Linked DNA regions of Homo sapiens: region 1 is linked to region 2. The links come from fine-mapping of genetic effects on gene expression. Tissue or cell type: B cells. Region 2 holds a variant in brackets; the other region holds the start of a gene. All regions are shown on one strand. Distances are from middle to middle.

What was found. PIP is the estimated chance that this variant, and not a neighbour inherited with it, causes the effect.
Region 1: SLEAR starts here. The variant in region 2 is fine-mapped to the expression of SLEAR in B cells (Fairfax 2012, PIP 0.95).

What each region holds. Positions count from the first base shown.
Region 1 is chr8:101,049,328-101,054,327 of GRCh38, reverse strand. It overlaps SLEAR (STAT1 regulated ILF2 complex interacting lncRNA), which reads right to left and starts at 2,274. Exons shown (of 3, transcript NR_033962.1): 1 at 1,492-2,274.
Region 2 is chr8:101,255,975-101,261,239 of GRCh38, reverse strand. It overlaps LOC107984005 (a long non-coding RNA gene), which reads right to left. Exons shown (of 5, transcript XR_928468.3): 2 at 59-201. Among named protein-coding and RNA genes, the nearest start is that of LINC02844, 4.3 kb to the left of the region's middle. The variant T/A (reference allele first, on the strand shown) is at 3,064.

The sequences.
Region 1 (5,000 bases), 210 kb after region 2:
AATTACCTTATAATTTGGCAGCTTAAAACAGTTAACATTTTATTATCTCACAAAGTTGGGATTTGGGAAGTGGCTTAGCTGGCAGGCTGTGGTGCAGGATCTCTCACTAGGCTGTGCTCAAAATGTTGACGGGGGCCAGGCACAGTGGCTCATGCCTGTAATCTCAGCACTTTGGGAGGCCAAGGAGGGTGGATCACTTTAAGACAGGAGTTCGAGACCAGCCTGGCCAACATGATGAAACATGTTGAAACATGTTCTGTATTTTTAGAACATGTTTAAATACATGAACTTAAACAGGTATTTAAACAGAAATACAGAAATTAGCCAGGCATGGTGACACATGCCTGTAATCCCAGCTACTCGGGAGGCTGAAACAGGAGAACTGCTTGAACCCGGGAGGCGGAGGTTGCAGTGAGACAAGATCATGCCACTGCACTCCAGCCTGGGCAACAGAGCAAGGCTCCATCTCAAAAAAAAAAAAAAAAGACTGGGCTGTAGTCATCTGAAGGCTGGACTGGGACAGGAGTTCCCAATCCTAGGTGGTTTTTTCGTATGACTGTCCATTGCTGGTTGCTGGCAGGAGGCCTTAGTTCCTCACCATAAGAGCCTCTCCCTAGGGCTATTCGAGTGTCCTCATAGTATGGTATCTGGCTTCCCCCAGAATGATTGATCCAAGAGAAAGAGCAAGAAAGAAGCCACATTCTGTTTAAAAGAAGCAACTTCTTAAGTCTAGCCCATACTGTAGAGGAGAATTCAGCTCCATCTCTTGAAGGGAGGAGTATCAAATAATGCATGGACTTATTTTAAAGCCACCAAAGGGAACAAAGGAAGCCAGAGTTCCTAAACTTTCTTTCTCCACTGTCCTGACTCCCCAAGTGTGATGGATGACTATGGATCCAGTTATTGGCAAGACTAAAATTGAGATTCAGACATTATCAGGAAAGATTTGGAATCTAAACACAAAAGAGCGCAGGCAAAACTGTGTCACTTCTGGGATGGAGCCCTCGAGTGAATCCAGACGTTTCCTCCAAACTCAGGGAACCAGCATGAAAGAGAAAGAAGAAGCCAGACATACGCCCTGTTAGCTAGCGTCTGAGGAGTTTCCTTAAGCAGGATGATAGAATCGAGGAGGGATGGGCAGGCCCTGAGAGGCAGGCAGCATCAGAGAGGCCCAGCCACAGGGGCTGGCAGGGGCAAGAAAGCAGTCTTGGGGTCTGGGGCCCTTGGGTGCAGAGCTGGATGACTCAATAGGTAGCTGAAATACGGATTTGGAGACCCAGCCCAGCAGGCATCTCCCACAAAACTGAAAAATGTTTGGCTTCAGTGAGAACTGAACTGAAATTTTACAATCTAGATATCTCAAGTGAAATCATTTTAATCTCAGCATCTATATCAGTTTTGTGTTTTAAGTGTTAGTATCATTTTTATTTTGAATTACATAATGGCAGGGCAGAGGGAGGATGGCAGAAGGGTCTGTAAAGCCGAACTTACCAACTCGTATGTCCCAGCATCCTGGTGGCCTGTTCACAGGCAGGGCTCTCACCTGCAGCCATGTAGCCACTACTCTGCACAAAGCAGCTAGCAGGAGGGGCATGTGGGAGCTGAAAGCAGTCTGTGTCCTGACCACCAAGCCTGGCATCCAGCTTGTGAAAATACGGCACATTTTTATTATTCCTAGTTTCTGCTAGCTGATGGTTCTGCTAATGAGTTATAGATGAGTTGAGATGTGGAGCTCTCTAGCTCTTGGGAGGCCAGGCAGGTGAGAGAAGCTGGAGCCCCCAGGCCAGATTCCGCCTGCTGGGAGAAGCTTTGCCCAGAGACCAACTCAAAGAAAATAAAAATGGATGGAGGCCCAAACCCAGCCATAAGCAGGCAGCTCACCACACAACAAACAGCAATACCCTACCTTGTGCAGGGTTGGGCAGTGCTGTACATCCCATCAAGGACTCCTTACAGGTCCTCTGCTTATTGACCCCAAGTCTGGGTAGTATGGGCTCCCAGGCTAACCAAGGGGGCATAGGAGCAGTGCCAGAGGAGAGCGAGGAGATGGGCAGCCTACACCGAGAGCCTGCCCTCCCAGAGGGGTGCACTGGGAAAGCTGGCTCAGCCAGTCCCTCCAGAGTTCCAGCAGCTCCACTCTCCCCAACCTGGTGGCCCAGCCCCACAAAGGGGCTATCCCTGAGACCCTCCTCTGAAATGCCCCTCCCTTCGAAGAGCTCCATCCAGTTGGAGGGGCTGTGAGCTGGAGTGGAGCAGCATAAAGATGAAGGATATGAGGCCAGATCCCTCCCCCACTAAATACAGCCTGAATCTGATCGTCACAGGTTGTGCTGGACAGCTTTATTTGCCCACAGGATTGGAAGTTAGAGGCCCATGGACTGGATTACGCTAAAGGAAGTGACATATGCAAATGAGTCACATGCCAGGCTGCTGCGACCAGACTGACAGCTTTATCATGCAGTACCCCGTATCTCTCAGGGCCTGTTTACAGAAAGGTCTGGAGTCTTCTCTTGTCTTTTGGCAACGATCCAGCTTGCTCAGGCATGACTTCTCATGGAAATTCGGTTTGACTTTAAAAATGCTCCTTGTGGTGGTAACTTAGCAGCCAAGACCGGCTCTGCGCTGAATTATTGAACGGTGCGGATGTTTGCCTTCCCCTGTCACAGCCCCTCTTCTCTGTAGCTCCTTTTCCTGACAAGTAATTTTAAATATGCAGCAGTGCAAGTCTCTGTGCTCACTTGGCCTAATGCTAAGCCAGATTCCAGTCGTGCTTGAACAACTGCCAAGACACCCAGGGCAGCAGGCCTTGCTCCAGGGGCCTGGGGACTACAGATTTGGGCAAGTGGATATTTTGATGACGGTGATCTCCAAGCTATTGTTCTGAAGGGATCATATCTTAAGGTATCTAAAACCAAAATCATTCGTTAACACCCAGCTGGCTCCTTCACCTGTTTTCTCTATTTTCACCACTGGTGTCACAATCTGTTCAGCTGCCCAAGCCCCTGCCTTGGCCTCACCCTTAACCCTGCAACATGTGCACAGTCTCCAAGTTTTGTCTATTGCGCCTCTAAGATATTAATCAGTTACATTCAATCCTCCCTATCCTCACTATCCCTGACTTGTTGAAGTTGATATCATCTCCCCTAGACTCTTAACATGCCCTTCCAATCAAGCTCCCCTTCTCCAATCCTTTGGCCACAATGATCTACTCATATCCATATTATTGTCCAGCTTTCATTGGTTTTATTAACTTGAGGATCAAGTCTAAACTCTTTAGCATGTTAGTCACAGACAGGTATCAAATGAGCAAAACTACAATATCCTTGATCTTAAAGCAAGGATGAGGGAGAGAATCAGCCAAGCAAACAATCATTGCCCCATATTTTTAATATAAGTTTTATCACTTGCAATTCCATGACCTTGGCCAAGTCACTTAACCTATAAACTGAGATTATCAACAGGAATGACGATTAATATTAGACACAATATAATTTATTCTATATATTCTAAATAATCTAATTTCTTATAAAATACTTCTATTTCACACCGTACTTTAAAACTGGAAAACTTATTTCACTTTCAAAATATTCAACCATGGAAACTGCAAAGCAATTATATGAGTTCACTAGTGTCTAATATCTTTATTCTTAAAAAAGAAAATGGTCATTTTTAATTAGAACAAAAAATCAAAGTTTAATTCCCATTTTTAAAAGAGCAAAATATTTTTAATTACAACTAATTTCAAGGATCTTTACGTGTTGTACAATCAAAGTTACTTACTCTTACAGATTTTCACATTTGACATGCAAAATGAAAAACTTAAATTACATTATTTACCTATAAAAATAATAATAACGGGGATTAAATGAGATAACATATATAAGTAACATAGTTTCCGTATCAGGTGTCTAGAAAGTACCAGAAATGCTCACCTCTGTAACTGTTGCTGCTGTTCAAACCCTGGCTTCCCTCCCTTCCATTGTCATCTCTTGACTACCTGGAATATCCTAGGCAACCACACCCATTCTCAAATCACGTCCTACCACCGCATATGTTTGTGTCTTTGCATAGCCATTCCCCTACCTGGAATTGCCTTTATCTCCTTGTCTAGCTAGTAAATTGCTACTCATTCCTAAAGGGCCATCTCAAATGTTGCCCTCCCTGGAATGTCTCTAGTGCTCCCATCTTCACATTTTCATAGCTTTTGCACATAACTTTATTGTAACTTTTGCCTTGAAATATTTATTCTTGGGGCCGGGCGTGGCGGCTGACACCTGTAATCCCAGCACTTTGGGAGGCTGAGGTGGGCGGATCATGAGGTCAAGAGATCGAGACCATACTTGCTAACATGGTGAAACCCCATCTCTACTAAAAAACAAAAAAATTAGCCGGGCATGGTGGTGGGCACCTGTAGTCCCAGCTGCTCAGGAGACTGAGGCAGGAGAATGGTGTGAACCCGGGAGGCAGAGCTTGCAGTGAGCTGAGATTTTTCCACTGCACTCCAGCCTGGGTGACAGAGCCAGGCCCTGTCTCAAAAAAGAAAGAGACCAGCCATGGTGGCTCACGCCTGTAATCCCAGTACTTTCAGAGGCCAAGGTGGGCAAATCACCTGAGGTCAGGAGTCCAAGACTAGCCTGGCCAACATGGCGAAACCCTATCCCTTCTGAAAATACAAAAATTAGCCAGGCTTGGTGGCACATGCCTATAATCCTAGCTACTCAGGAGGCTGAGGCAGGAGAATCGCTTGAACCCAGGAGGCAGAGGTTGTAGTGAGCTGAGATGGTGCCATTGCACTCCAGCCTAGGCAACAGAGCAAGACTCCAAAAGAAAAAAAGAGAAAGAGAGAGAGAGGGAGGGAGGGAGGGAGGGAGGAAGGAAGGAAGGAAGGAAGGAAGGAAAGAAGGAAGGAAGAAAGGAAGGAGAAAGAAAAGAAAGAAAGAAGGAAGGAAGGAAAGAAAGAAAGAAAAAGAAAGAAAGGAAAGAAAGCAAGAGAGAGAAAG
Region 2 (5,265 bases):
TACTATTACAAGAACGTCACTTTAAATAATTTGAAACAGACTAGGAATGTTCTTTTACCTTCTGCTTTGATGAAAGTAGATGCCTGTTATGTCCAAGTGAATGTGAATCCATCATTTTCCCTCCGTTTCTTAAATCCTGCAGCTCTAGTGCTCATGCCATCACCATGCAGGAGTCCAAGTGAGATGAGGACTAAGAATTTGCTGTAAGGAAATATGGTATGAGCAGAAACAGGGGTAATGGTTGAAAATATGCAACTGAGGACAGAATGTACCTAGGAGACAGTGGTTGACTCTCCAGCAATGCCACTGAGGCTGCTAATAGAGGTGCTGTGTGCTCCCCCGTTTTTATGCTCATCTCCTGGAGGACAGAGGCATGCAGAGCCAAGGGAACAGAGAGAAGACATAGCAGTTCCAGCATCCAAGACAGGGTCACGATGGATGTATTGTCCTTCCTGGTTCCCAGTGTAAAGCCACTCACAATGGCCATGTTTGAACACTGTATGTGCCAGGTGCAGGGCTGAGAGTTTAATATCATTATCTCATTATTAAGTCCCCACAATGGTTTTGAGAATGTCATTTATCACCATTTTGTAGATGAGGAAACTGAGGTTTAGAAGCTGACCCACAGTCATAAATCCACTAAACTGGCATGGTTCCCAGATCCCTTCACCAGGAAGCTACAAGGTCTCACATCACCTGGGCAGTGTCCCACCAGCACATCCTGCTTTGTCCCACAGGAGTGACATGAGAGTGTGGCAGGTGTGTTCAGAGCCACAGGCCCACAGCCCAGTCAGGCTGTTCTTGTGTTGACTGACAGCCTTGGGACTTGGTCACCTGAGCCCCAGTCTGGGAGGAGACAGGAAACCAGCTGGTAGTTGAGGAAGACTTATGAGCAGTTTTCAAAGTACCCTAATAGATGCTAGAAAGAGAGAAAACTATTTGACTCTGGTGTGTATGACTCACATTTTGAATTTTTAGTAGCATAAAAATGGATTATATTTATAATTAAATGAGGGGTTTTTTGGTATTTGGATTTAAAAAACAAGGGGCAAAAAGGAGAAAAATTGGTCTTTACTGGGCAAACAACTAGGTAATAATTAACTACTATTAAGAATCAAGTAGGAATCTTAATATCTTTTCAGTTTTTATAAACCAAGGAATTTTGATGGGGATGAGGTGATGAACCCCATCTCTAGTCCTTTCTTTAGTGAGGATCGCTTGTGATGAGTTAGGATATGCATAGAGGGGAGAAAGGAAATTGAGGGGTAACATATTGGGATATCATTGTTTCTCAGTTACTTATTTCTTCACCTTCAGCTGCTATCATGGAGCTGGGACTGAGTCATTCTAGAAAGGGCACACATTTACCTTCCATACTTATATATTTAGAGCGTCTATTATCTAACTTTGCCTGCTAGTATTGTTAACTAGGTACATATCTGACACCCCCACTATTTCATACTTCCACATTTCAACTTAAACCAGTAATGATAAAAGTGAGGATCTGAAATCTGACCTGAGTTCAAATGCTGACTGCATATGACCTTGGATAAATTAGTTCAATTCTATGAGCCTCAGTTTTCTCTTCTGTAAAATGGGGATTATAACAGTCCATTCCTCAAAGGCTTGTGAAGTTTAATAAGCATGATGTATATATAGTTCTTAGTGCAATGCCCGGCACATAGGAAGCACTTAATGATACTTGTTCCATTCTTAAGGAAAAGGCTGTGCTTTGTAATGAAGAAAAAGTTAACTATTTGTAAAGTAGTTTCATGCAAATTATCTTGATCCTAATACAGAGCTCAGCAACTAGAAGTCAGGCTGCTTGGGAAAACTTGGCATTCTGTTACAATGATGGTGGAATAGTAATTGAGAAATCTTTTAGGAAGGCAATAGGGTAACAGAAATCAAAGACATAACTTTTGACCCTGCAGGACATGTACACAAAGATGCATATGTAAAAGTTCATCATAATCTTGTTCATAATATTGAAATTTTGGAAACAACCTAAATGTCCAACAATATGAGATTAGTTTATAAATATGGGTACATCCACACAGTATGTATGAGGACTCTTCTTGTTGCAAGTAACAGTATCATATCGGATGTAGCTTAAGCCACAAGAGGGAATAATTGACTTAATCAAGAGAGGTAGACCTAGCTCAGATGCCCCTGTTCTGTAAACCCTTCTCTGACCCACCAGGCAGGATAAATTACTCCTCTGTGCTGCCAGAGTATGACCTTTATGTATCTTTCTATCCCCAATGCCTAGAGCAGTGTCTAGTCCAAGCTAGGAGCTTAGCAAATGAATGAATGAATCAGCCAATGAATCAATAACTTTATGTGAGAGGCCAGAAGGAAGCAATGTGGTCTAGTGGAAACAGATGTGGAGGCAGGTAGTCCTCAGTGCAGAACCTACCTTTACTGCTTACTAGCTGTGGTTACCTTAGGAAAGTCACTCAACCAACCTGAGCCTCAGGTTCTGCTTTGTAAAATGATAGTCATGGTAGCCACCTTTTCCAATAACTGCAGAGGATTGAAGAAACCACTTATCTTTAATTTAAAAAATACTGATATATCTTTCTAATTATCAAAGTAATAATTAAATTGCACCTTTTTTTTTTTTTTTTGGAGATGGAGTCTCGCTCTGTCACCCAGGCTGGAGTGCATGATCTCCGTTCACTGCAAGCTTCACCTCCCAGGTTCAGGCCATTCTCCTGCCTCAGCCTCCTCAGTAGCTAAGACTGGGACTACAGGCGTCTGCCACCGCGACTGGCTTTTTTTTTTTTTTTTTTTTTTTTTGTATTTTTAGTAGAGACAGGGTTTCACTATGTTAGCCAGGATGGTCTTGATCTCCTGACCTAGTGATCTGCCTGCCTCGGCCTCCCAAAGTGCTGGGATTACAGGTGTGAGCCACTGCGCCAGGCCTTAAATAGCATCTTTTGACGCTTTTTATGCAACTTGAAGATTTTAGCCTGCTTTTACTCCCCAGATTTCTCCTTTACTCACTTCCAGGTCTGTATGAATATAAGCAAGGTTTCTAGATATTTCTTAAGGTAGCAT[T/A]CAGTCATTCATTTATTCAACCCATATTTACCCCCTCTACCAACTAGGCACTATACATGTTCTGAGCGCTCACAAAGATGGGCAGATAAATGTAAAGAACAAGACTATGTGGAAAGTGCTGCCAAAGAGGTGTGGCTTAAAAGCATACTATAGAAACACAGAGGAAGGAGCTGCAGCTCCAGGAAAGCTGGAGGAGGTCAGTTCTTCCCAATAATCACTGATACATGAATCTTGAAGTTGCTAAAGAAGACATGGGGTTTTTCTTAAGTAAGCAGGACTGCGCAGAGATGCTTGACTTCTAGTTACAGCATGCAGTGGTAACAACAGCAGAGAAGAGGTCTCTTTGATGGAATGTCCACACTTCTGGTATCTTCCTAAGAGGGAACAGTGACAGGACTGACCCATTGTACGGGGGAAGCCCTCTGGGGCTCTGGAATATCATGAAAGATGAGCTGGTGGGACAAAATTTGGTCTTCCTGCTAATGGAGGCATGAGGGGCCTCAGGTGGTGGATCTTAGGATACCACTCAGGGAGTTCATTGTACCCAACCAGAAAGAGTAAGAGTCGTTGGTTACACTAGGAAACTATTCTTGGCTGGGTGCAGTGGCTCACGCCTATAATCCCAGCACTTTGGGAGGCTGAGGCGGGTGGATCACCTGAGGTCAGGAGTTTCAGACCAGCCTGGCCAATGTGGTGAAACCCTGTCTCTACTAAAAATACAAAAATTAGCTGGGCATGGTGGCAGGCGCCTGTAATCCCAGCTACTCGGGAGGCTGAAGCAGGAGAATCACTTGAACCTGGGAGGCAGAGGTTGCAGGGAGCCGAGTCGCACTATTGCACTCCAGCCTGGGTGACAAGAGCAAAACTCCATCTAAAAAAATAAAATAAATAAAAATATTATTTAAAAAATAAAGAAAACTATTCTTGTCCTGTAGGGGTGAACTGTCACTCCCATTTCCCTGAATTTTCAGGGTCAAATTGCAAGCAAGGGTGAAGGCAGTGTCAGCTGGTAGGTGTGTCTGAGGCTTCCACTCCAGTTTCATTATTTTGAGCTTGGATGCCTGTTGTCTTCTAGTATCTTCAAGTTTCAAACTCCCAGACTCCTGAAGCCTCAGGGTTATTTGTCTTGGTAACCAACACATGAGCATTCTTGCTCCCACCACCTGTTCAGGCAAGGTAAGGAAGCAACTAGGCTTTAAACATATGACGCCCGGCTCCAGGTGCCCATCCTGATGTCCCAGTATACTTCTTATTTTCTGGTTTCCTACTGTCTTGGATCTACAGCTAATTCTTTATTTAAGCTGCTAACACCCTTCCCTCTGTTATTCTATGAGCTTCCAGTCAGAATGATAAGAACCTCAAGCTGCTTCACTGGTGTAGGGCCCGTGAATGAAGGGAGAGGGAGGTGCATTTTGAGCTGAATTACACTTCTGCCAGCATACTCCAGAACTTTTCCTATTAACTGAGCTCTGTCTACCATTCCATCTCAATCTCACAGCCTTTCACCATGTACTGGGCAAACAGAACAGGCAAAGATTTATTTTGGGGCATCTTAGCCTATCTCTACATTTCTATCGTCTTGGGATTCTCTATATCATCTCTTGCAGGATGCTCTGAGAACACAACTTGTGCAGAAACAAAACCAGAAAACACTCCAGAGGAACATATGGTGGGCACACTGGAAGTACTTCCCCAAGATGCTAATAATGGCAGCTTAGCTCTACAAAGCTTGTTAGCAAAAGCATTTGTAATTCCTGACATATTGTTTAAACATTTAAAAATCCATATATTGAAATTTAAAAATAATAGAAAGATGAAGAATATGCACATTCCCCCTAATTTTCAAGACTTCATATTTTAAGTCTTAGTTACCAAAAGAGAACTGAAGGAAGCAAAGATCTTGGTTTTATTCCTCTGCTTGACTACTCTTTTTATAAGTTTCACTTTTTCCAAACCACCTGTCTTTTGTTTCTAAATCTTCCTTCTGTTTAGTTTTTCCTTTGCCATCCCTTCTTTTGTAAGATTTCAGTTCACAGTCAAAACGAGGAGGTGGCCAAGTTGGAAGTCAATTGCAGGCTGCTGACGCCACACTCTGTGGAGGGTGTCTCTGTGCCATCCATGGATGAGTCAAGCATCCTTGTAGGTCATCACCTGAGCTAACCTGTGGATGCATGTATCTATTTACTTCCTTCTGCATGGCAA